Homo sapiens: one gene and its partners. Changing the gene in region 6 together with the main gene of any one other region gives a genetic interaction. Each region holds a gene or a part of one and is shown on either strand. Other genes may lie near its edges.

The links.
Region 1: changes in MED23 (region 6) and MTRES1 together harm fitness more than expected from each alone (negative genetic interaction), as found in Homo sapiens cells (one large-scale study listed by BioGRID).
Region 2: changes in MED23 (region 6) and RNGTT together harm fitness more than expected from each alone (negative genetic interaction), as found in Homo sapiens cells (one large-scale study listed by BioGRID).
Region 3: changes in MED23 (region 6) and RFC5 together harm fitness more than expected from each alone (negative genetic interaction), as found in Homo sapiens cells (one large-scale study listed by BioGRID).
Region 4: changes in MED23 (region 6) and TIMELESS together harm fitness more than expected from each alone (negative genetic interaction), as found in Homo sapiens cells (one large-scale study listed by BioGRID).
Region 5: changes in MED23 (region 6) and RPTOR together harm fitness more than expected from each alone (negative genetic interaction), as found in Homo sapiens cells (one large-scale study listed by BioGRID).
Region 7: changes in MED23 (region 6) and SCO1 together harm fitness more than expected from each alone (negative genetic interaction), as found in Homo sapiens cells (one large-scale study listed by BioGRID).

What each region holds. Positions count from the first base shown.
Region 1 is NC_000006.12:107,031,199-107,034,698, forward strand, and holds part of MTRES1 (mitochondrial transcription rescue factor 1), read left to right. Parts: intron 1-3,500. UniProt on the Homo sapiens protein: Mitochondrial RNA-binding protein involved in mitochondrial transcription regulation. Functions as a protective factor to maintain proper mitochondrial RNA level during stress.
Region 2 is NC_000006.12:88,953,619-88,957,118, forward strand, and holds part of RNGTT (mRNA-capping enzyme), read right to left. Parts: intron 1-3,500.
Region 3 is NC_000012.12:118,023,203-118,026,702, reverse strand, and holds part of RFC5 (replication factor C subunit 5), read right to left. Parts: intron 1,853-3,500; coding exon 1,693-1,852; exon of another isoform or gene 1,689-1,692; intron 957-1,688; coding exon 875-956; intron 1-874. UniProt on the Homo sapiens protein: Subunit of the replication factor C (RFC) complex which acts during elongation of primed DNA templates by DNA polymerases delta and epsilon, and is necessary for ATP-dependent loading of proliferating cell nuclear antigen (PCNA) onto primed DNA.
Region 4 is NC_000012.12:56,428,927-56,432,426, forward strand, and holds part of TIMELESS (protein timeless homolog), read right to left. Parts: coding exon 3,443-3,500; intron 2,679-3,442; coding exon 2,545-2,678; intron 2,043-2,544; coding exon 1,955-2,042; intron 1,356-1,954; coding exon 1,179-1,355; intron 175-1,178; coding exon 1-174. UniProt on the Homo sapiens protein: Plays an important role in the control of DNA replication, maintenance of replication fork stability, maintenance of genome stability throughout normal DNA replication, DNA repair and in the regulation of the circadian clock.
Region 5 is NC_000017.11:80,963,853-80,966,868, forward strand, and holds the end of RPTOR (regulatory-associated protein of mTOR), read left to right. Parts: intron 1-409; coding exon 410-478; 3' UTR 479-2,516; downstream 2,517-3,016. UniProt on the Homo sapiens protein: Component of the mechanistic target of rapamycin complex 1 (mTORC1), an evolutionarily conserved central nutrient sensor that stimulates anabolic reactions and macromolecule biosynthesis to promote cellular biomass generation and growth.
Region 6 is NC_000006.12:131,621,743-131,625,242, forward strand, and holds part of MED23 (mediator of RNA polymerase II transcription subunit 23), read right to left. Parts: intron 3,248-3,500; coding exon 3,123-3,247; intron 1,721-3,122; coding exon 1,609-1,720; intron 238-1,608; coding exon 139-237; intron 1-138. UniProt on the Homo sapiens protein: Required for transcriptional activation subsequent to the assembly of the pre-initiation complex. Component of the Mediator complex, a coactivator involved in the regulated transcription of nearly all RNA polymerase II-dependent genes.
Region 7 is NC_000017.11:10,673,534-10,677,033, reverse strand, and holds part of SCO1 (protein SCO1 homolog, mitochondrial), read left to right. Parts: 3' UTR 1-3,500. UniProt on the Homo sapiens protein: Copper metallochaperone essential for the maturation of cytochrome c oxidase subunit II (MT-CO2/COX2). Not required for the synthesis of MT-CO2/COX2 but plays a crucial role in stabilizing MT-CO2/COX2 during its subsequent maturation.

The DNA of each region.
Region 1 (3,500 bases), about 25 Mb from region 6:
GTGAAACCCTGTGTCTACTAAAAATATAAAAAGTGGCCGGGTGTGGTGGTGGGCGCCTGTAATCCCAGCTACTCTGGAGGCTGAGGTGGGAGACTATGGCTTGAACTGGGGAGGCAGAGGTTGCAGTGAGCCAAGATCGCGCCACCCACTGCATTCCAGCCTGGGCAACAGAGGAAGACCCTGTCTCAAAAAAAAAAAAAAGAAAAAAAAAGAAAAAAGGAGAAGAGAAGGAGGCAGCAAAGGAGTCTTTTCTTTTTTTTTTTTTTGAGATAGAGTTTCGCTCCTGTTGCCCAGGCTGGAGTGCAATGGCTTCGGCTCACTGCAGCCTCCGCCTCCCAGGTTCAAGTGATTCTCCTGCCTCAACCTCCTGAGTAGCTAGGATTACAGATGCCTGCCATCGTGCCCAGCTATTTTTTTTTTTTGAGACGTCTCACTCTTGTTGTCCAGGCTGGAGTGCAATGGCGCAATCTCAGCTCACTGCAACCTCTGCCTCCCGGGTTCAAGCGGTTCTCGTGCCTCATCCTACTGAGTAGCTGGGATTACAGGCACGTGCCACCACATTCAGCTAATTTTTGTATTAGTAGTAGAGACAGGGTTTCTCCATGTTGGTCAGGCTGGTCTCGAACTCCCGACCTCAGGTGATCCACCCACCTCGGCCTCCCAAAGTGCTGGGATTACAGGCATGAGCCACCGTGTCCGGCCAGCAGAGGAGTCTTGAGAAGCAGCAGCCACAGGAGAGACAGGAAGAAAACCAAGAGTAAGGTGTCTTGGCGACCAAGTGAAGAAGAGAGGCGTGATCGGTTTTTTCAAGTGCTGCTGAGGAGTCAATTAAGATGAGGACTAACATGACCTTTTGGATTTAGAAAATGAAAGGAGTGGAATTGAGGAGAGTTAGACAACTGTTTTGAGAAGTTTTATGGTAAAGAGGAGCAAGAAAAGAGGTGGTAGCTGGGGAGGAGTGGAGGCAAGAGGTTTGTGTAATTGCTTGCTTTTGAATGAGACAAAAGTAACAGCATCCTCTCCTTTACTATAGCCACCCCCACGTTGATTCATTTCCTCACATATGCCAAGTGCCTGGCTAGGCCTTGGTAAAACACGCAATTCTTGTCATCAGGGAACTGCCATTTAAGTGGAATGTGGGCAAGTAAACTGACTGCCAGGGCACACATGTAAAAGCAGGTCCAGGGGAGGTTGAACCCTGCATCAGCTGGAGCTCAGAGCAAGAATGCCTGAGCTGGGTGCAGTGGATCACGCCTGTAATTCCAGCACTTTGGGAGGCCGAGGCAGGCGGATTACAAGGTTAGGAGTTCGAGACCAGCCTGGCCAACATAGTGAAACCCCATCTCTGCTAAAGATGCAAAAATTAGCCAGGCGTGGTGCCGTGTGCCTGTAGTCCCAGTTACTGGGGAGGCTGAGGCGGGAGAATTGCTTGAACCCAGGAGGCGGAGGTTGCAGTGAGCTGAGCACTGCACACCAGCCCGGGTGACAGTGCAAGACTCCATCTCAAAAAAATAAAAAAATGCCTGAGCATCCTTGAATGCTCATCCTCATTCATCCTTGAATGAGAGAAAAATAACAGCATGCCAATGGACTGGTCCATTATCAAGCAAAAAAATCACTGTTGTAACTTGATATTTCCCCATAGCTCGGTTTCAGGCCACCTTTGCTCTCAGAACTTTGTAGGCATCCTTGCTCTGCGCTCCAGCTGGTGCAGGGTTCAGCCTCCCCGGACCTGCTTTCACATCTGTGCCCTGGCAGTCAGTTTACTTGTCCACATTCCACTTAAATGGCAGTTCCCTGGTGACAAGGACTGTGTGTTTTATACCAAGGCCTACCCAGGAACTTGGCATATGTGGGCGAACGAGTGATTGTAGGGGTGGCTATAGTAATGGGCAGGATGCTCATTTCATTTCTAGAAATTGAATCTGCAACCATTCACTGGTTTTGGTATGTCCTGAGCAGAGGAGTGAAGAACAGGGCACTGTGTAGTCCCTATCACTACACTTAGAGTTTGGGAGATAATTTGTGACTTAATTCAAAAGTAACAAAAAAATGTGTAGTGTTGGTGCAACCAGAGTATGGAAAAGGGCATGTGGGGCATGGCTTGGTAGAGGAGGATGTGACTCGTGTGGAGTCTGGAGGAAGAGGAGACCATGACAAAGGGACAGGAATTTTTCAGTAGTAGATTTTTTTTTTTTTTCAAGTGAGCTATAAGGAACCCAGTATTCTCCAGTGCTGCTTTGGCTTGAGAGGAGCTGGGTGCCTGGTTAGCTTTCTTCTCTGGCACCCCCACTTCCAACTCAGGGCTCCCCTGACCAGTTTCAAAGTCCTGAGGCAGGGCCGGGCACGGTGGCTCACGCCTGTAATCCCAGCACTTTGGGAGGCTGAGCTGGGCAGATCACGAGGTCAGGAGATCAAGACCATCCTAGCTAACATGGTGAAACCCCGTCTCTACCAAAGATACAAAAAATTAGCCGGGCGTGGTGGCGGGTGCCTGTACTCCCAGCTACTTGGGAGGCTGAGGCAGGAGAATGGCAGGAACCTGGGAGGCAGAGCTTGCAGTGAGCTGAGATTGTACCAATGCACTCCAGCCTGGGCGACAGAACAAGACTCCGTCTCAAAAATAATAATAATAATAACAAAGTTCTGAGGCAGAATCTGGGTCCTCCCTTGTGACCCTGAGTGCCCACTGCTAACAACTACAAATGGTCATCATCTCCAGCAAGAATTAGCTTAATGTGTTTCCTCAATTTTATGTTTTTAATGAATTTTATCTAAGCTTCCAACATTTGCCAATGTTTGCCTGCTAGAAAGTTAAGCTGATCACAATGAGAGGTAGTGAGTAGCTAATAAACACAAGGGAATACGTGGCTTGACATTTTGGTATGTTTGTTGAATTTACAAGTGCACCTGATTCTAAATAGTTATTTTCTGCAAGGAAAGGTTTCCTAATGCAGGTAGCAGAGAGCCACATCATATCTAGGCATTCCTCAAAGTAAACAACGGTACGGTATAAAGCTAGGACTTTTCTCAAAGTCAGGAAAAGAGTGTAAAAAAGATACTGAAAAACATAAAAATAGAACTTATGGATGGGGAGTGTGGGCACCCAGGGTCTGACACAGAAACAGGACTACTTCCCTTCCCTAGGTGTCTCCTCTTAGGATATTTTCTAAGTTGGGGCAACAGTTCCTCCCACTCTTCTACCCCTGAAAACTATCTGTTCTCTCTGGTATTGCACTGGTTGGTGAGTTTTTATTCCAGAAAAAAAAAAGGAAAATAGATGTCAGGGTGTGGAAGAAAGAGTGCTTAACTTGGAGTCAGAACACTGATGGACAGTTCAGCATGGTAGTAATGAGTCTAGGCTTTGCAGCTCGGATGCCTAGATTTGAAGAGTATCTGTGTGACCCTATAACTGAGATGGGCTTGTCGCAAGGAACAAATGAGTTAACGTGTAGAGCAATGCCTGGCCCACGGTGAAAACAATGAGCTTTAAGGAGACT
Region 2 (3,500 bases), about 43 Mb from region 6:
AGAACACCTAGGAAATTCATCACAAAAAGATCATTACCTAGGCACATAGTTATCAGGTTATCTAAAGTCAAGATGAAGGACAGAAACTTAAGAGCTGTGACACAATAGCCTCAGATAACCTATAAGGGAAAACCTAACAGATTAACAGCTGATTTCTCAGCAGAAACCTTACAAGCCAGAAGGGATTGGGGTCCCATCTTTAGTTTCCTGAAACAAAATAACTGTCAGCCAAGAATTTTGTATTCAGCAAAACTAGGCTTCATAAATGAAGGAGAGATAGTCTTTCTCAGATAAACAAATGCTGAGAGAATTGGCCACTACAAGAAATGAAAGACACACTACAAGAAATGCTAAAAGGAGTTCTAAACCTTGAAATAAAACCTCAAAATACACCAAAATAGAACATCCTTAAAGCATAAATTTCACAGGGCCTATAAAACGATAACAGAATTTTTTTAAAAAAAGGTATTTAGGCAACAACTAGCATTATGAATAGAACAGTACCTTATCTCAATACTGTATTAACATTGAATAGAAATGGCCCAAATGCTCCTTTTAAAAGACACAGAATGGCAGAATGGATAACAACCCACAAACCAAGTATCTGCTGCCTTCAAGAGACTCACCTAATGCATAAGGACTCACATAAACTTAAGGTAAAGGGGTAGAAAAAGATATTCTACACAACTGGAAATCAAAAGCGGGCAGGAATAGCTATTCTTATGTCAGACAAAACAAACTTTAAAGGAATAACAGTTCAAAAAGACAGAGAAGGACATTATATAATGAAAAAAAGGATTCGTCCAACAGGAAAATATCACAATCCTATATATGCACCTAACCCTGGAGCTCCAAAATTTGTAAAGCAATTACTACTAGAGACCTAAGAAATGAAATACACAGCAACACAACAATAGTGGGGGACTTCAATACTCCACTGACAGCACTAGACAGGTCATCAAGAGAGAAAGTCAACAAAAAAAGAATAGAGTTAAATATACCCTAGAACAAATGGACTTAACAGATATTTAGTCTCAATAAATTTAAGATAATTGAAATTCTATCTAGTATCCTCTCATACCACAGTGGAATAAAACTGAAAATTAGCTCCAAAAGGAACCCTCAAAGCTATACAAATACACGACCAGGCGTGGTGGCTCATGCCTGTAATCCCAACACTTTAGGAAGCTGAGGTGGGTGGATCACCTGAGGTCAGGAGTTCAAGACCAGCCTGGCCAACATGATAAAACCATGCCTCTACTAAAAATACAAAAATTAGCCAGCCATGTACTAAAAATACATGGTGGCACGGGCTTGTAATCCCAGCTACTAGGGAGGCTGAGGCAGGAGAATTGTTTGAACCTGGGAGGCAGAGGTTGCAATGAGCTGAGATCGTACCATTGCATTCCAGCCTGGGTGACAGAGCAAGACTCCATCTCAGAAAAAATAAATAAATAAAAATTAAAACTATACAAATACATGGAAATTAAAATTTCTGCTCTTGAATAATCTTTGGGTCAACAATGAAATAAAGATGGAAATTTAAAAATTTTTTGAACTGAATGATAACAGTGACACAACCTATCAAAACCTCTGAGACACAGCAAAAGCAGTGCTAAGAGGAAAGTTCATAGCATTAAATACCTACATCACCAGGCGTGGTGGCTCATGCCTGCAATCCTAGCACTTTGGGAGGCCAAGGCGGGCAAATCACAAGGTCAGGAGTTCGAGACCAGCCTGGCCAACATGGTGAAATCCTGTCTCTACTAAAAATACAAAAAATTAGCCAGGCATGGTGGCGGGCGCCTGTAATCCTAGCTGCTCAGGAGGCTGAGGCAGCAGAATCGCTTGAACAGAAGAGGCGGAGGTTGCAGTGAGCCAAGATCGTACCACTGCACTCCAGCCCAGGTGACAGAGTGAGACTCATCTCAAAAAAAAAAAAAAAAAACCCACACCAAAACATCTGAAGGAGCACAAACAGAAAATCTAAGGTCACACTTCAAGGAACTAGAGAAACAAGAATAAACTGAACCCAAACCCAGCAGAAGAAAAGAAGTAACAAACATCAGAGCAGAACTAAACTGTAACAAACAAACAAAAAATACCAAACATCCACAAAAGATTAACAAAACACTGGTTCTGGATGTGGTGCAGTGGCTCACGTCTGTAATCCCAGCACTTTGGAAGGCCAAGGGAGGCAGATCATTTGAGGTCAGGAGTTTGAGCCTGACCAACATGGTGAAATCCCATCTCTACTAAAAATACAAAAAAATTAGCCGGGTGTGGTGGCGGGCCACCTGTAGTCCCAGCTACTTGGGAGGCTGAGGCAGGAGAATCACTTGAACCTAGGAGGCAGAGGTTGCAGTGAGCCAAGATGGCATCACTGCACTCCAGCCTGGGTGACAGAGCGAGACTCTGTCTCAAAAAAAAAAAAAAAAAAAAAAAAGCTGGTTCTTTGAAAATATAAACACAATTGATAGACCATTAGCAAGATTAACCAAGAAAAGAAGAAGATTCAAGTAAGTTCAACTAGAAACAAAACAGGAGATATTACAACCGATACAACAAAAATATAAAAGATCATTCAATAGTACTATGAATACTTTATATGCACAAACTAGAAAATCTAGAGGAGATGGATAAATTCCTGGAAATATACAACCCTCCTAGATTAAATCAGGAAGAAAGAGAAACTCTGAACAGACTAATAACAAGTAGCAAGACTGAAACAGTCATAAAAAAACTGCCAAGAAAAAAGTCCAAGAAAACAAAAATAAATTAATTAAATTAAAATTTAAAAATTTTAAGTGCAGGACCAGATGGATTCACAGCTGAATTCTACCAGTCAAAGAAGAATTGCTACCAATCTTACTGAAACTATTCCAAAAGACAGAGAAAGGGAATCCTCCCTAAATCATTCTATGAAGCCAGTATCACTCTAATACCAAAACCAGGAAACAATATAACAATAAAGAAAACTAGAGACCAATATCCCTGATGAACATAGATGCAAAAATCCTCAACAAAATGCCAGCTAACCAAATCCAAAAGCATATCAAAAAGGTAATACACCATGATCAAGTGAGTTTCATACCAGAGATGCAGAGATGGTTTACCATACACAAGTCAATAAATGTTGGCCAGGCGTGGTGGCTCTTGCCTGTAATCCCAGCACTTCAGGAGGCCGAGGTGGGTGAATCATTTGAGGTCAGGAGTTCAAGACCAGCCTGGCCAACGTGGTGAAACCCCGCTTCTATTAAAAATACAAAAATTAGCCAGACGTGGTGGCAGGTAGTCCCAGCTACTCAGGAGGCTGAGGCAGGAGAATCACTTGAACCCGGGAGGCAGAGGTTGCAATGAGCTGAGATGGTGCCACCGCACTCCAGACTGGGTGACAGAGCAAGACTCTGTCTCAAAAATAACTAAATAAAATAAAAATAAATGTGATACGTCACATAAACAGAATTAAAAACAAAAATCACATGATCATCTCAATAGAT
Region 3 (3,500 bases), on a different chromosome or scaffold from region 6:
TGTTGGCTATTCCAGTGCCAAATCCTTCCCTCCCTTTGCCTTCTTTGCAACAAATGATTCCTTTTGTTTTTAAAACATTTTCTTTTGCTCTCTCTTTGTTTTTTGAGACAGGGTCTTGCTCTGTTGCTCAGGCTGAAGTGCAGTGGCATGATCATGGCTCACTGTAGCCTCGACCTCCTAGGCTCAAGTCACCCTCCTGCCTCAGCCTCCTGAGTAGATGGGACTACAGGTGTGCACCGCCACACCTGGCTCATGATTTTTTAGTGGAGACAGAGTCTCACTATGTTGCCCAGGCTGGTCTCCAGCTCGTGGGCTCAGGCAATCCACCTCCCTCGGCATCCCTAAGTGCTGGGATTACAGGCGTGAGCCACCATACCTGGCCTGCAACAAGTGATTTTTTCAATTAATCAAAATACAAAGTGAGGAGGGGGAATCCTGCAGGTTATGAGACCAAGGTCTTACCAGCTGTAGATTTCAAAATTTACAGATTGATCATGCCTTTGCTTAGGTCTTTCTTCAAAAACTATTACAAAACAATGACTCAGGATTTGCTGGGACCAGGCTGGGCATGGTGGCTCATGCCTGTAATCCCAGCACTTTAGGAAGCTGAGGCAGATGGATCATTTGAGGTCAGGAGTTCGAGACCAGCCTAACCAACATGGCGAAACCCCATCTCTACTAAAAATACAAAAATTAGTAGGGCGTGGTGGCGGGCACCTGTAATCCCAGCTGCTCAGGAGGCAGGAGATTCGCTTGAACCCAGGAGGCGGAGGTTGCAGTGAGCTGAGATTGTGTTGCTGCACTCCAGCCTGAGCGACAGAGCAAGACTCTGTCTCAAAAAAAAAAAAAAAAAAGGATTTGCTTGAGACCATACCTGCAAAATGTTCAGAGCCCTACGCATGTCTCCACTGGAAAGAGTGACTAGTGCTTTCATTCCATCTTCACTTATATCAACTCTGAAAGAAATAAGCAAAAGGGATTTATGAGGCCCCCTGAGAGCACCAGCATTCACCAAAGGAACAAGATGGCCTGGAATGATTAAGGCTTTAAAGGGATGAAGGAAGGAGAGGAACAGAGTTAATAATCTCCTGATCTATATGATCTAGAATTCACTCTGGTTTTTAGGGACCTGGGCTTCACATTAGTAGTCACAGCCAACCAAAATCGAGAACAGCCTGAATTTAGGAACAAGCATTCTCCCATGGAGCCAGTCGTCTTGAATTCTGCTCTCTGGGGAGGACAGAGGCCTGGCACAAGCCATGATCACACAGCCGAAACTCCTCCTTCACAACAAGCAGCTGCTCAGGTCGGCTACTTGCTTGGCATCTGACTACACAGAATGTGATGTCTTAGAACCTTCCCTTCTAGTCTAAAAAGGCTGGAAGCATCTTTGCAGAAGGGACTCAGCAGCCTGCAGTTTCCAATGACAAAGAAGAGTAGGAGGAAATTGGGACAGCTTCCAGGGGAGGAGGATGGAATCAAGAAAAATGAAGTACCAAATGACTTTTATGAGGAATGGCCTTGAGACAGCAGAGAAAATGATAGCAGTGGACGGTCCCCAGTGCCTCCCCTGTGCTAGGCACTCTGCAAAGTCGTTTTCCAACATTCCTCTCCTCTACATACGAACCAGCCAGTGATCCCACAAGCCTGTTTCTACTACACTCCATCCCCAAAGGCCCGCAAAATACTCACTTCTCTTCTTCCACGACATGTTCCAGGCGGGGAACCATGAGTTCAGGAGTCAGGGGACCGAACCGAAACCTCGTGCAGCGGGACTGCAAGGCAGGGATGATCTTTGACAGATAGTTACAGATGAGGCAGAATCTGGTATTTTCTGTGAATTTCTCAATTACTAGTAAGAGAAAATAAAACCACCTCATGTCAAAGTCCATTCTGATTTTTCAGAGAGCCCAGAAAACTTGAATTTTTCTGTGGTCACAAGGGTATAGGAAAAGATTCAATACTGCAAACAAGTGAGGATGTTGGCCGGGCGTAGTGGCTTAGTGGCTCACGTCTGTAATCCCAGCACTTTGGGAGGCTGAGGCGGGAGGATCACTTGAGGTCAGGAGGTTTGGCCAACATGGCAAAACCTCTACTGAAAATACAAAATTTAGCCAGGTGTGGTGGCACATGCCTGTAATCCCAGCTACTTGGGAGGCTGAGGCAGGAGAATTGCTTGAATCCGGGAGGTGGAGGTTGCAGTGACCCAAAATCATTCCACTGCACTCCAGCGTGGGCAACAGAGTGAGACTCTGTCTCAAAAAAGAAAGAATGTAAACAAGTGAGGCTGCAGCCTATGACAAGACAGGGCAGTGCTGGCCTGTTCAGATCAGAGATTAGCCACTCCTCTTTTTTCTTTTTTGAAACAGAGTCTCGCTCTGTTGCCCAGGCTGGAGTGCAATGGCACGATCTTGGCTCCCTGCAACCTCTGCCTCCCGGATTAAAGCGATTCTCCTGCCTCAGCCTCCTGAGTAGCTGGGACTACAGACACGTGCCACCACGCCCGGCTAATTTTTTATATTTTTAGTAGAGACGGGGTTTCACCATGTTAGCCAGGATGGTCTCGATCTCCTGACCTCATGATTCGCCCGCCTTGGCCTTTGGGATTACAGGCATGAGCCACTGTGCCAGGCCAATTTTTGTATTTTTAGTAGAGATGGGGTTTCATCGGTTAGCCAGGCTGGTCTCGAACTCCTGACCTCAGGTGATATGCCTGCCTCAGCCTCCCAAAGTACTGGGATTACAGGTGTGAGCCACTGCGCCCTGCCTAGCCACCCCTCTTTCACAAACTGGTAAACATGCCTCCGTGGGATTTTACAAAATGCTTCCTTTTTACCATTTGCCATGATTCTGGCACTTTTGCCATGTAATCCCATTAAGACTATGAGACTTCTTGTCCTTTTACATAAAATTATATTTGGCAGGTTGATGACACTTCACCTTCTATGGGCAGGGAGGGCGGCTTTTTGCAGACTTTTCCATGGAGACTGTCTGGAGGCCTTAGAGCACTCAAGGGAGCAATAACCCGAACAAAGAGTTGCTTATGACACCGGTTCCATTCTGTAGGTACCCAATGTTCTCACATGGGGATCTGCCCAGAATGACAGTCACTCGGCAGAACAAGATGCCGAAGAAAGGCTGCCAAGCTTCTAGGACCAGAAGATATTCTCGCTGTCCTCCTCCTCCTCCTCCTCCCCCACCTCTCCTCCTCCACCTCCCCCTACCCTCCTCCTCCGCCTTCTCCTCCCCCTCCTCCTCCTCACCCCCTCCTCTTCCTCCCCTCCTCCCCCCTCCTCCTCCTCCCCCTTCCCCCATCCTTCTCTTAACATGTGCTGCCATCTACTCCCTCGCCACAAACTCCTAAAGATCGTTCTTCTCTCAAAGCTGATTCACTTGGAATCTTAATGAGAGATGACAAGTGTCCTTTAAGAGAAAAGAACTGCGCTAGGCCCCTGAAGACAGACAAATCGCAGGGTGCTGTCCCTCCCGCTGCCAAATCA
Region 4 (3,500 bases), on a different chromosome or scaffold from region 6:
CTCATAGTAGTTGGTGAGGTTCTGCTCAATGAAGTGGAAGGTACGGACACTGAGGGTCTCAGAAACCAGGCCTGGCCGGAAGGAGGCAGCTCGGTTGAAGGCCATGAAGAAAGCCAAGGCCCACATATAATAGGTCTCATCATGCTGCTGAGCTTTCTCCCGAAGCAGGTGATCCTGACATTTAAAAAAGAAAAAAAAAGATCACCATGACTCCAGGGCTTCCAACTTCTTCCTTCCTGTCCTATGATGATGGAATGGATGCTGGACACCGTCATAATTTTTTTTTTTTTGAGGCGGAGTCTCACTCTATTGCCCAGGCTGGAGTGCAATGGCATGATCTCGGCTCACCGCAACTTCCACCTCCTGGGTTCAAGCGATTCTCCTGCCTCAGCCTCCTGGGTAGCTGGGATTATAGGTGCCCGCCACCACGCCCAGTTAATTTTTTGTATTTTCAGTAGAGATGGGGTTTCACCATGTTGCAGGCTGGTCTCAAACTCCTGACCTCAGGTGATCCACCTGCCTTGGACTCCCAAAGTGCTGGTATTACAGGCGTGAGCCACTGCGCCTGGTCTTTTTTTTTTTTTTTTTTTTTTTTGACAGTCTTGCACTGTCATGATGAGGCTGGAGTGCACTGGTCTGATCTCGGCTCACTGCAACCTCTGCCTCCCAGGTTCAAGTGATTATCCTGCCTCAGGCTCCTGAGTAACTGGGACTACAAATGCACACCACCATGCCGGCTAATTTTTTTTTTTTTTTGTATTTTTTTTTTTAGTAGAGATACGGTTTCACCATATTGGCCAGGTTGGTCTTGAACTCCTGACCTCAAGTGATCCACTGCCTCAGCCTCTCAAAGCGCTGGGATTACAGGTGTGAGCCACCACGCCGGGACACCGCTATAATACTCTAGGATCCACAATTTCCAACTCTCTCCTGTTCTCCCTTTCCTCTCCCTCTGAGGCAATTTTTCCAGAGCCTCTTTTGTCATGCCAGGAGCCCACTCGTTCCTGGCATTTTCACTATCTCTCAGGGACATCCTAACTGTATATCCTTCCCACCTACGAGTCCACATTCCAGGGGCAGCCTCCCCGAGCTCCTCCCCACTTCTTACCCACCAACAGCTGCATCATCACCTGTCTATTCCATTCCTGATTATCTCCATATCCTTCACAGGTTCTCACCTTTACTGATCCCATGAGCCGGTTGTAACAGTTCTCCAGGAACTCAGAGCAGAAGTCTCTGAGGAAGAGCCTCACATTGAGGGCAGAACGGCGCTGAATGGACAGCTCTCGGGCGGCCTGGCGACGTTTAGGCACCTTTTTCGGCTGCTTTCCCAAATCTGAACTGTAGTTTCGTAGCTGGGTGTGTCGGTTGGGGGATTAGAATTACTCCTAAATACCACTTTCCCCTTGCAGCTCTCGTCAATTTTCTCAGAAGAAACTAATTTTTGTTTTTCTTTTGAGACAAGAACTTGCTCTGTCACCCAGGCTGGAGTGTAATGATGCAATCATAGCACACTGGAGCCTTGAACTCCTGGGCTCAAGGAATCCTCCCACCTCAGCCTCCCGAGTAGTCAGGACCACAGGCGGGTGCCACCATGCTCAGTTAGTATTTTTCACTTGTTGTAGGGACAGGGTTTTGCCATGTTGCCCAGGCTGGTCTCGAACTCCTGGGCTCAAGCAATTCTCCTTCCTTAGCTTCTCAAAGTGTTAAGATTACAGGCATGAGCCATTGTACCCAACCTTTAATTTAATTTTTTTTTTAGAGACAGGGTCTTGCCATGTTGCCCAGTCTGATCTTGAACTTCTGGGCTCAAGCAATCCTCCTGCCTCAGCCTCCCAAAGTGCTGGGACCACAAGTGTGAGCCACCAGGCACAGCCAAGAACTCTTAAGATGATTACCCTGCTTAAGCTATGCAACTCCACTATGTTCCCACTCCAGATGTAAGAATACTCACGTTGTGAAGGCCTTTGTGAAAGATGAGGTCCCTCTCCCCAATGGATTTCAACCCCTGGACAATATAGGAGCCCCCAAATCGAGAATGCCTGCAGAAACAAAAAGGTCCAAGGTGATTTTTCAGTTCTCTGGAAACTTTATCTCCATTCTCTATCATCGGCACATTGGAGCAAGTTAAAACTACAAAATGTTGGTCGGGCACGGTGGCTCACGCCTATAATCCCAGCACTTTGGGAGGCTGAGGCAGGCGGATCACCTGAGGTCGGGAGTTTGAGACCAGCCTGGCCAACATGGTGAAACCCTGTCTCTACTAAAAATACAAAAATTAGCCTGGCATGGTGGCATGCGCCTGTAGTCCCAGCTACTGGGGAGGCTGAGGCAGGAGAATCGCTTGAACCCAGGAGACAGAGGTTGCAGTGAGCAGAGATCGTGCCAGTGCACTCCAGCCTGGGCGACAAGAGCAAAATTCTGTCTCAAAAAAAAAAAAAAAAAACACTAAAATGTTGTTCAATCACCCCACCTTAGAATTTGCCTTCTATGCCCTCAGCATTCCATGATGTAGGAAAAAGAACCTGCCTCTCTGTCACTCACCTGTTGCCTCGCTGGAGGGCTCGAGTCTTCTTTTCTGCCATCTCTCGCTGGCGCAACACCTCCAGTTCTGCAAAATCTGCACTCCGCTCCTGAGCTAAGCGTCCCTGCCCTACTCCCGCCAGCTGCTCGGGGTTCTAGATTGGAACAAAGAGGGAAGAATCAGGAGGACAGTCATTCCTTATCCTGAGTTCACGCCTACTGGGGATGCAAAGAGTGAACAAAATAGAACCCCATTAATGGGGCATTGTGCTGTCGTTCTCCCTTATCTGAGGGGGAAATGTTCTAAGACACCCACTGGATGCCTGAAACTGCAGACAGTACTGAAATATATATATGTATATATTCATATATACATATATATATTTGTATGTGTATACACATATACATAGAACATGTACGTTCTATGTTTTATAGAATGTATATATGTGCTATATATATAGTTATCAGAAAACAGAACATGTATACATATATATATACGCACATACACATATTCTATTATGTTTTTTCAATTTGATAACTAAGATGGCTAGTACATGACTAACAGGCGGGTATACACTGTGGATATGCTGGGCAGAGGGATGATTCACATCTTGTTTAGGACAAACAGGGACAAAAGATTTCATCACACTACTCAGAACAATGTACAAGTTTAAAACTTCTAAAATGTTTATTTCTGAAATTTTCCACTTAATATTTTCAGACCATGGTTGACTGTGAGTAACTGAAATCAAGGAAAGAAAACCATGAATAAGGGGGTACTACTGAACTCAAGACATGGCTACTCCTGCTGTCGCCTGCCTTCCCCAGATAATGCAGCCATTATCACAAGAGCAATTCTGGCTGTACAGCAGAAAAGTACATGGGCGGAGGGGACTCGGGCAATAGGCCAGGGTCTCACCTGGTCACGAAACATAAGGGAGACAATCTCTAGCACATGTAGGCTCCATTGCTCCTCA
Region 5 (3,016 bases), on a different chromosome or scaffold from region 6:
GGGCCCCACCTGCACGGCTCTCTGGCCTTGGTTGCAGCCTCCCCACGTGGCTTCAGGCCGTTGTTTTTAGATTAGGATTCTGCCCACCTGCCGCCTTGTGTTGTGAGGCTCCAGGCATGTAGCTCTGCTGACACGTGTGACATTGGATCCCAGAGCTGCCCCGTGGGGCAGTCCTGAAAAAACCACGCAGGGCCCGGGGCAGCGCCACGCCCCTCACGGAGTGCACCATGCATGGGCCCTGCAGAGGACTGGTGGGACCGGCCCGGCATTTCCGGGCCTGAGGTGGGCGTGGGGGTTCCTGAGACCCCGGCAGGAGCTGCCTAAGGATGCGGGTTGGCCTGCGCCCCCCCGCCCCCCGCAGTGTCTGCCCGCACCTGAACCCCTGCTCACCCCTTCTCTCTCCTTGCAGCCTCACCTGGCCGTGGGAAGCAACGACTACTACATCTCCGTGTACTCGGTGGAGAAGCGTGTCAGATAGCGGCGTGACCCGGGCCCACCAGGCCACGGCCGCCTGCTGTACATAGTGAAGCTGTCACTCGCCGGGGCACGGGGCGTCGGCTGCTGCGGCCCCGCAGTGTGAACGTTGGCTGCTGCCTTAGCTGCTGATGACGGCAGGAGGGCCCTGCTACTCGCTTTTGTCTGTCTTCGCTGTCGTGTCTGGAATGTCAGGGAAGGGGAGGGCTCGGGTTGACGGTGGCTTCCCACTGAGCACCAGCATCCAGGTGCACCCCCGCGGCCACGGCGCCTCTGTCCCTCTCCTGTTCTGTGTTTCTCTGAGACGCTGAAAGGGGAAACACCTCACTTTATTTCCATGTAATCAGAGCATTAGCTGCAGAAAAACCCCCCGACAGAGCCCTGGCGGAGAGGCAGGCGCTGGGGCTCCTACGGGTCCCTGGGGCAGCTGTCCCCATCAGGCCAAGAGCGAGCGAGAGGCGCTGCCCCAGCCAGGCCCACCACCTCTCACAGTCAGTGCACGCAAGCAGGGACATTTCCTAGCCAGCTGGGGGACACTGGAAATTCGGGAAACCAAGAGAGAGGAAGAAGGAGACGCCCCTCCAACTGGCGGGTGTGAAGGAAGCCGCCCAGGGGTCCGGGCTGTCCTTGGCCGCTGGCAGCATCACTGAGCAGGAAGCGCACAGCCCACCCTCCCCGCACCTCCAGGTCTCTGGACTCCAGTTTTGGCCCCTCTCACACAGAGCTGTCAGCAGGGGCCGCTGTGGCGGTGCACAGGGGAGGCAGGTCCTTGGCGAGGTAGCCCCTGCCTTAATCCACGGGGCTCCTTTCCCTCCGAAGGGCTGCTCTTCCCCACAGGCGCGGGGACAGCAGCCCGACCTGTGGTCTCCATGCCTGTGCCCTCACACAGGTGTAGCACACGCATGTGCAGATGGCACCACGGCCGGCACCTGGGGGCACACACATGCAGGCGGCGTGGTCTCCCTGCTCTGTCCCCACACGTTCCTCACATACAGGCAAGAGGCACTGCCGGGTCCCGGACGGCTCCGGGTGACACCAGCCCCGTCTCCAGCCTTGAGCCGCCCATGCTGATGCGACCTCGGCTGACAGCTGGGCCTGTGGTGCAGACAGGAGCTGTGTGGACAGTCCCGCCCAGGAGGGGCCGCAGGGCGTGTATGAGCAGTTTTGCAAACAGAACACAACCACAATGATGGTATTTTGAAAAGTGTTCTTTCCGTGTTCGTCGGGAATCAGGATTATTGAGAGGTGAAGGAGCCAGGTGGCTTCATTCTGGCGGTGAGAGGCCCACGACCACGGGAGTGAGAGCTGGTGTGGCGAGGCCCGGCTCTCCTGCGGTGTGGCTGGTGGCCTGCCGTGGCCAAGAGCATCTTCTGGGTGGATGGAACCCTGCCTGGTCACATTTGGCCAGAGACACACCTGGCCCTCAGGGGGCTGAGCTGGAGACTGAGCTGGGGCTGGCCGGGACGTGACAAGGCAGGACAGAGGCGGCCCCTCCGCTGCTCCTTTTTGGAATGCGAGCTCCCACCAGAAGAAGGTTCCGGCACGAATCCCATCCCCACGTCTGGGCCGAGAAAGCAGCCCGGGTCCGGAAGGTGTAGAGAGTCCCGGCCTCACTCAGCTCACAGGGCGTGCCAGGCGGCAACACCAGAATCTTCCAGAAGCCCAGCTCCACCCGCACACGCAGCTTCCCATCCAGTCCTTCAACTCAATTCTTACCCAACACGCGTTTCTGTTTGTTTTGAGACAAAATCACCACCTGTCAAAAGGCAGGTGGCTCCAGAGGGGTCAAGACCCCCCCCCGCCCCCGCTCCACCCTGGAGCCCACCCCCATGGGCACCGCGTGCCGCCTGCACGTGGGCTGTCTTCACAGGTCTGATGTGAAAATTCAATCACGACGTTAACCGGCTCGAGAGAGCGCCGGCCTAGAGGCTCATTATCTATTTATTTTACCAAACGCGAATTGAGACGGACTTTGACAAAACACGAAATGGTAATGTGAAGCTAAGAGCAGAGAGTGACCAACAGTAAACAACACGCGCAGACTCCGCGGCTGGCGGCTGTGTCTTTAAGGAAACTGCCCACCCCACCTCAGGGGGGCATCGGTCAGAGCAGAGCTCTGGGGGGTGGGGGGACGTTGCCCGGGTCCCCCCTGCTGTCCCCAGGGCCACCAGCAGCTCTGCGTCCCGGGTGCTCTCCAGGCAGGCACTGTGGCCACAGGGGGCCTGGCACGTCGAGTGTGCAAAGGTCTCGGTCCTTTTCTCCCAGGCAGTGCCCCCAGCCCTGTGGCGCAGACCCCACATCAGGGAGCGTACTGTGTGGCAAGAGCCATCTTGTGACGTAGGCCAGACACGTGTCTTTCTCTTTAAAATGACGGTTATCCTCTCACGGTTAGAGGCCCCATTCAAGTCTGCATTGAAATCTGGGCCACGTCAGAGTTCCTGGGGGAGAAGCCGCTTCCCCGCTCCTCCCCACTTCTGGAGGCCCCCACTCTCCTTGGCTCGTGGCCCCTTCCTCCAGTTCAGGGCCTCTGACCCACGCCCAC
Region 6 (3,500 bases):
TTTAAAATAGAAGTGATTTTTTTTTGGTAGAAGAAATAGAGCATCTCACAAAATACCGTAAGTATTAAAAGCACAGACCTAAACAAAGCTAGACTTTTTTGAGGTTATGATCACGAATTTCAGACATGTCTAAATTACCTCTCTTGCTGCCAGAAGCTGCTGTACAACAGCAGAGCTCACTGTATTAGGAATTGTCAAAATCTTCTCCAAAATCACTTTTAAGAGATCTCGAACACCCTGATATAAGAAAAAAGACATGGGTTAAAATTAAGTAGTGTCTACTGTGTTAGCTAAAACGTCCGAAGGTTTCAGGGTGATATATTCCTTCAAGGTCACACCTTTAAATTTTCTGAATCAGTTACAATCTAAGTCCCTAACATTAACCCAACAGAAGAGTCATGTTCCAAAACAGAGTTCTAAAGACTGTCTTAAAATACAATGAGCAAAGAAAGTCATTATACAGTTTGTCAAGCTTTTTTGGCCCTCATAACATTAGAAGGGTTTACGTTGTTACAAGGGTCAAAAACCTTAATTATACATATAGACAGAAATATATTGTAACAAGACTTCAATGCACTCTGAAAACTTGAGTAACAATATCAAACTTTTTGGTAGAGGACTGTTTCTGCTCACTCCCTTTTGTGCTGGGATTATAGGTGTAAGCCACTGTGACTGGCCTATTCTCCCTTCTCATCCATCACATACCTTAATCTCTCAAGGATATCCAAGGCTATTCTGTTAATCATTTCCACATATCCAATACCAGTTACATTATCTGATATATAAAGAAGAAATTTCATTCAACATTTATTTATTGACTATGAACTACGTAACCAAGCTTGTAAAAGACAGAACATATACCTAAAAGAACAATTATGAAGTATCATACAAATAAGAAAATTGCATAAGTCTGAGTAAAGAGAAAATAATTAGCAAAAGCTTCTTAGAGTTAACTGTGTGATAAATCATGATTTAAACTAATAATTATCTGTTAGGTCATTACCTGTTAAATCATTTCAGATTAGAGAAAATGCAGAAATAAAGCACAGGGTCAGACACTGGTAATTCCCGGGAAAAGGACAATAACAAAAGTCTCCTGAAGATGCAGAATGGCTTTTGTAGCTATGGAGTCCCTAAGCCGTTTTATGAGACAAAACTAGAAAGTGTATGTTGTTTTTGGTCAAGAGCCCAAAGTGCTGAAGATATTAATTGAGGTAAGACCCACGTTCAAGAGAAGTGAAGCCAGGTCTTGCTCCCTTCATCAGTGATGCCTACATCCCTTCTCAGTTCCACACACCCCTGCTCTGTGCTTTCATTTGAAGGGATCATAATACTTGCAGCATGAAGGAACACGGATTCTGCTTTGTGACTTCCCTGCTCTTCATAAAAATGTATCAGCTACCTGTATTTATAAGAATGTTGGGAGGGGAGTAGCGGAGCCAGGGAAACAACTGAGTAACTTTAAATCTTTTCAGGAAATATACCACAAGAAATAGACAGATTTTGTAAATGCTTCCACATCATTTCTCTCACCTGAAAATAAGACATGCACACCGAAAAATCAATCATATCTGAAAGCAATCACTTTTTATAATAAGAAAAATATACCTTGTAATCCACTCCCCCAATTATTTTCCGAACCAGTTTAAATGTTAAGGCCCAAAGCTGTGTTCTTTCCCACTCAAGAGTGTCAGAGTTTATCAGGGATTCACAAACCAGCCTATAAAAAAAGAAATAGCCATTCCAGTTACAAGACAGAATTTTCCAAGTTCTCTAATAGCCGCCAATATGGTTTGGCTGTGTACTCACACAAATCTCATCTTGAATTGTAGTTCCCATAATCCCCACGTGTCATGAGAAAAACCATTTAAATCATGAGGGACAGTTCCCCCAATACTGTTCTCATGATAGTGAGTTAGTTCTCACAAGATCTAATGGTTTTATATGGGGATTCCCCCTTCACTGGGCACTCATTCTCTCTCCCACCACCCTGTGATGAGGTGCCTTTTGCCATTATTCTAAGTTTCCTGAGGCCTCCCTAGCCATGCCAAACTGTGAGTCAATTAAACCTCTTTCCTTTATAAGTTACCCAGTCTCGGGTATATCTTTGTTAGCAGCATCAGACAGACTAATACAGCCATAGTCTGTGCACTGTATTATATTTATCCTCACAAGTGTCTTTCATAAAAGTGATTACTAAGCACACTTATAAATCTGTGTAGTATTTTACATTTTTTACTTGTATGAAAGATCAAAAACAAAGTAAGAATGAAATAATATTCATTATGTTATATTTTACTAGAAAGAAGTCTATCTAAAGCTTTCGGTTAGATGTTTACCATCTATCACCTTGTGGTACACTGGATTTTTCCAACAGGATGGCAACAAGATTTTTGATCCCACATCTTCTTCTGAAATGTGACACTGACATTTCTCCCAAGGAGAGGTAGGGGGAAAGTCTACGTTCTCACTCCTTAGATCTGGGCAGACCTAAGACTATGGCCAAAAGGATGCAGTATGACTTCCAAGAAGACAAGGTGATACAATTTCTGCCTAGCCCTCTTTTGCACACTTGCTGTTAGGCTCCACCATGAGGTGAGAAAGTCTAGGCCACAAGGTGAGGGCCTGCGGAGGTTCTGGCTAATAATCCCAGCTGAGGTTCCAGATGACAGCCAGGAATCAACCACCAGATATCTGAGTGGGGAAGCTTTTGCCATGCTCCAGCCCTAGCCACATTGATCACAATCATTATGACCTTGAGTAAAAAGTGTCTCCTAAGCCGAGTCAACCACTAAAACCATGAATAATTTTAAAACCTGAGTATTACTGTTTTAAGCCATAAGGTGTTGAGGTTGTGCAGCAAAAGTAAAGGGTTACAAACTAATTAAAGTGATTAATTTCAGCCCCTGGGCAGAAACATCTGGTTTTGAGCCCACAAGCATTACCTAATTCAAAGACTATTACTCCTAGAAACTAAAACCTGAGGTATTATATAAAGGATTACTTGATAAACCTCACCTTCTTCTTCATTCTCTTACCTTTTTACAACAACAACCTCAACCAATTTCCAATCACATATAGAAAAGAAAATTCTTCAGATTGCTCATACCCATTAAACGTACCTGGGTGGAAGGAGACCAGTCTCAACTGCCATTGCTAAGCAGTCATAAAGAAAAGAAATTCTTTTAGGACTATGCTGACCATGAATAAACTTAACAATCCACTGGATACACTGTTCATGAGACTCCTGGAAAATGAGAGAATGATTTTACTTGGGGTCTAAAGTTACATTTTTATAACCAATAGCTAATACTACAACTGGAAGTATACCAATACTATGAAAGAAATACTTCACTATGAGCATCTGTGGATGAAAATAATTTTTAAAAAAAGCAAAATTAAAAAATTCAGATTTAGTATTTGTCACATTAAGCTTAACATTTTGTAATTACATAGATAAAATGCTACCATTTTTATTACATGGGAACTTCAAAAGTAGT
Region 7 (3,500 bases), on a different chromosome or scaffold from region 6:
CGCCCGGCCTAGTTTGTGCTTTTTACTTACCAGTTAGGGGTTATATTACTGTGTAACAAAATGGACGGTTATTTCTATTCATTAACAAGATTCAAGTAATAGCCTCTTTAGCCACATATTCCTTAATAACACCTTTAGACCTTATAGGGGTAATTATTTTCTATATACTTTTCCAATGTATTTGAAAGTTTGTTGGCTCTTCTTCCGTAATTATACTATATCCTCAGTAAAGAAAGTTTGGCATACAGAAAAGTTGAAGGAAGAAAATTTTCAATCACTGTTGTTCCACTACCAAGAAATAATACTTGGAGGTATTTCCTTTCAATCTTCAACATGAGGATGCTAATGTCCCCCTCATAAGGGGCCTTAAAGTCACTGACTCTGTGCACTATTTCATGAGAACATTGATGTGGGTATTTAACCGAAAGAAAACTTGAGTTTTCTTTTTTTCCTTTTTATTGTGAAAATTTGGAAACTTATTCAAAAAGTAGAATAGTTAACTAATTGATGTACCCATCAGCAAGCTTCAGTGATTACCACCATTTAATTTTGTCTGCACCCCCCCACCCACTGCCACCCCAGCCCATTCCCAGCATGTGCCTCTGAAAGAGACCAACTTTGTCCTTTAAAAACAACCACAGTTGGCTGGGCACGGTGGCTCATGCCTGTAATCCCAGTACTTTGGGAAGCAAAGGCGGGTGGATCACCTGAGGTTGAGAGTTCGAGACTGGCCTGACCAACATGGAGAAACCCGTCTCTACTAAAAATACCAAAGTTAGCCGGGCGTGGTGGCGGGTGCCTGTAATCCCAGCTACTCGGGAGGCTGAGGTAGGAGAATCGTGTGAATCTGGGAGGCGGAGGTTGCAGTGAGCCGAGATCACGCCACTGCACTCCAGCCTGGGCAACAAGAGTTGTCTCAAAAAACAAAAAAGAAAGAAAGAAAAAAACAACCACAGTTTCATCAGCACAGCAAAAAGGTTTTTGTTTTTGCTCTTGGATTTTGTCGTTTGGTTTTTGCTTAATATCAAATATCCAGTCAGTGTAAACTCGTTTATAATTTGGTCCTTTGATTTCAAGGAGCTATGATGCAGTTCGTTGTGGGGATGTGTTGTCTCCATGTCATACATGTGACTTTGTCCATGTTTGCACCCAGTTCAAGGAAGACACAACCCTAGGGAAAGACAACCCTCCCCGCCAAGCCTCTCTTCCCATTCTTAAACATAGGGTGGCGTTATTCAGGTTGGACCAGTTTAAAAAGACTAACGCATTTGTCCTCGTTGTTGGGTGTTTTTTTTCTTTAAATTTGTAAAACAGGAATAATTGTGTTAGGATGAAGTATGATACTAGGAGAACAGGGAAAACTAACCCATCGTGTTAAAAGTCAGAATAGTGCTTAACTCTGGCAGGAGGTGAGATGGTTAGTAATTCAGAAGGGGGTGCCAGGAGAGCTTCCAGAGCCATTGAAATGTTCAGTAGCTTGATCTGGGTGATGATTTACATACATAAAAACATATTAAACTTTGAACTTAAGATTTATGCCTTTTACTGTTTGCACCCTATAACTCCAAAAGAAAAGTAGAGGGGAAAAAGAGTCCCTGCAAAAGGCAGTCTTGAAAGAAAGCAAGTCTGTGATGTGGAGAATGCATTGGACAGCTCTCAGCAATTTGCTGTAGCTTGGGCAGAGAGATAAAAGCTAATGCCAGCATCAGGTTGCCCAGGCGAGAGAAGGCCTGAAAGAAGACAGCGTGGAGAAAGTGTCAGCAAGCTTCAGCAACAGCAGGAGGCAGATGGTAGGAGAGTGGGCCTCAGGTGTGGTGTGGCAGAGCAGAGTAGCCACACTTAGGCCCCAGAGACAGTGTCTTCTCACCCTCAGTTGAAGGGGCAGGAAATCAATCGCTCTAGTCACCCCTAAGCTGGAGGACGGACCTAAAGTTGCCACAGCTTTGAGAGGCAAAGAAGTTTGCTCAGTGGCTTTTAGAGACTTCTAGGGCCCTGGGACCCTGACACTGAGGAGGAGCAAACTGAAGGGGAGAGTGGGCACATTCCTTGTTGGCTGCTGTGGTGAGCAGCAGCTGGTCGTTGTCAGTCAAGCTCCGGACCACTCTGATGATGCTCACTGCATTTTGATGGAGTAAGCCAGGGACATTACCACTGTGTTTGAGCCATCTGAAGTATTCCTGGGTGGGTCTGCAGTTGGCAGCCCGTGATCCTTTTTCCATTCAAGGATGATGCAAAGGTAAGGGGCCAAGGCTGAGCTCTGTAGATGCCTGTGAGAGCCTCCTGGTCTCAAGAGGTCATACCAAGGGCCTTGGCCACCAAGGTTTCGTGAGGACCTTGAGGTGGTTTCGCCATCACAATGTCAGACGTGTCACACACCATCTGGTATGTCCTCACTGTATAGAGGAAGAAGGGCCCAAGTGGTGAATTATCTACAAGTTTGTAGCAAAGCTAATACTCAGACTCCCTCTACAGCCTTGCTACTCAGTGTAGTCTGTGGTCCGGCAGTGTCACACCACTGGGGTACTTAGCAGAAATGCAGCTTCTCAGGCTCCACTCCAGCTCTCCTCAATCACAGTCTGTTTTTTTGTTTGTTTGTTTGTTTGTTTTGAGATGGAGTTTCGCTCTTGTTGCCTAGGCTGGAGAGCAGTGGTGCGATCTTGGCTCACTGCAACCTCCACCTCCCTGGTTCAAGTGATTCTGCTGCCTCAGCCTCCCAAGTAGCTGGGATTACAGGCGCCCGCCACCATGCCCGGTGGCGTGCATGGTAATTTTTGTATTTTTAGTAGAAACAGGATCTCGCCATGTTGGCCAGGCTGGTCTTGAACTCCTGACCTCAGGTGATCCACCCGCCTTGGCCTCCCAAAGTACTGGGGATTACAGATGTGAGCCACCACGCCTGGCCCACAGTCTGTATTTTAACAAGATCCCCACCTCAGTCTTAGGCACATGGATTCTCCTCAACCCCCAATACCACAGAGTCTATTAATTTTTACCCAATAGGGAAGGGGAAAAAGTCAAGAAAGAATAATGAATTAAGTAATCTTTCCCCCTCCAGGAAGCTCTTTATTTAATTTCGCTCCCATGAAACACAATTTGAAGAGTCTCTCAAATAAACAAATTCCATTTTCTGATAATTATTTAATTGCCCCACTTTTGAAATTTTTGTCAAAGACGACTGTCACTCCCTGTCAGAACTTCTATTCAGCACAGTATACCAAGCGTTTCTCCATCGAGTTGTTATAATATGATCAAAAAGCAGGGAGAGATGCTGCTTGGTTACCCTGTGGGGCCTTATCGGGGCTCAGTGCAGTCTTTCCATGTAGGCATTCTCAAATACTCAATTGAAACCTGATTGAGGATCATTTGATCTCTGTTGGCCCTAGTGCAGTAGGCTGCTGAGAACCACTGATGCAATAGACTGAGAGACTAACTGCCTGCTTCCCTGTCAGCCCAGGCTCTGCTAAGGCCGTCTTAGTTACAGAAGAAAGTGGGGCAGAGAG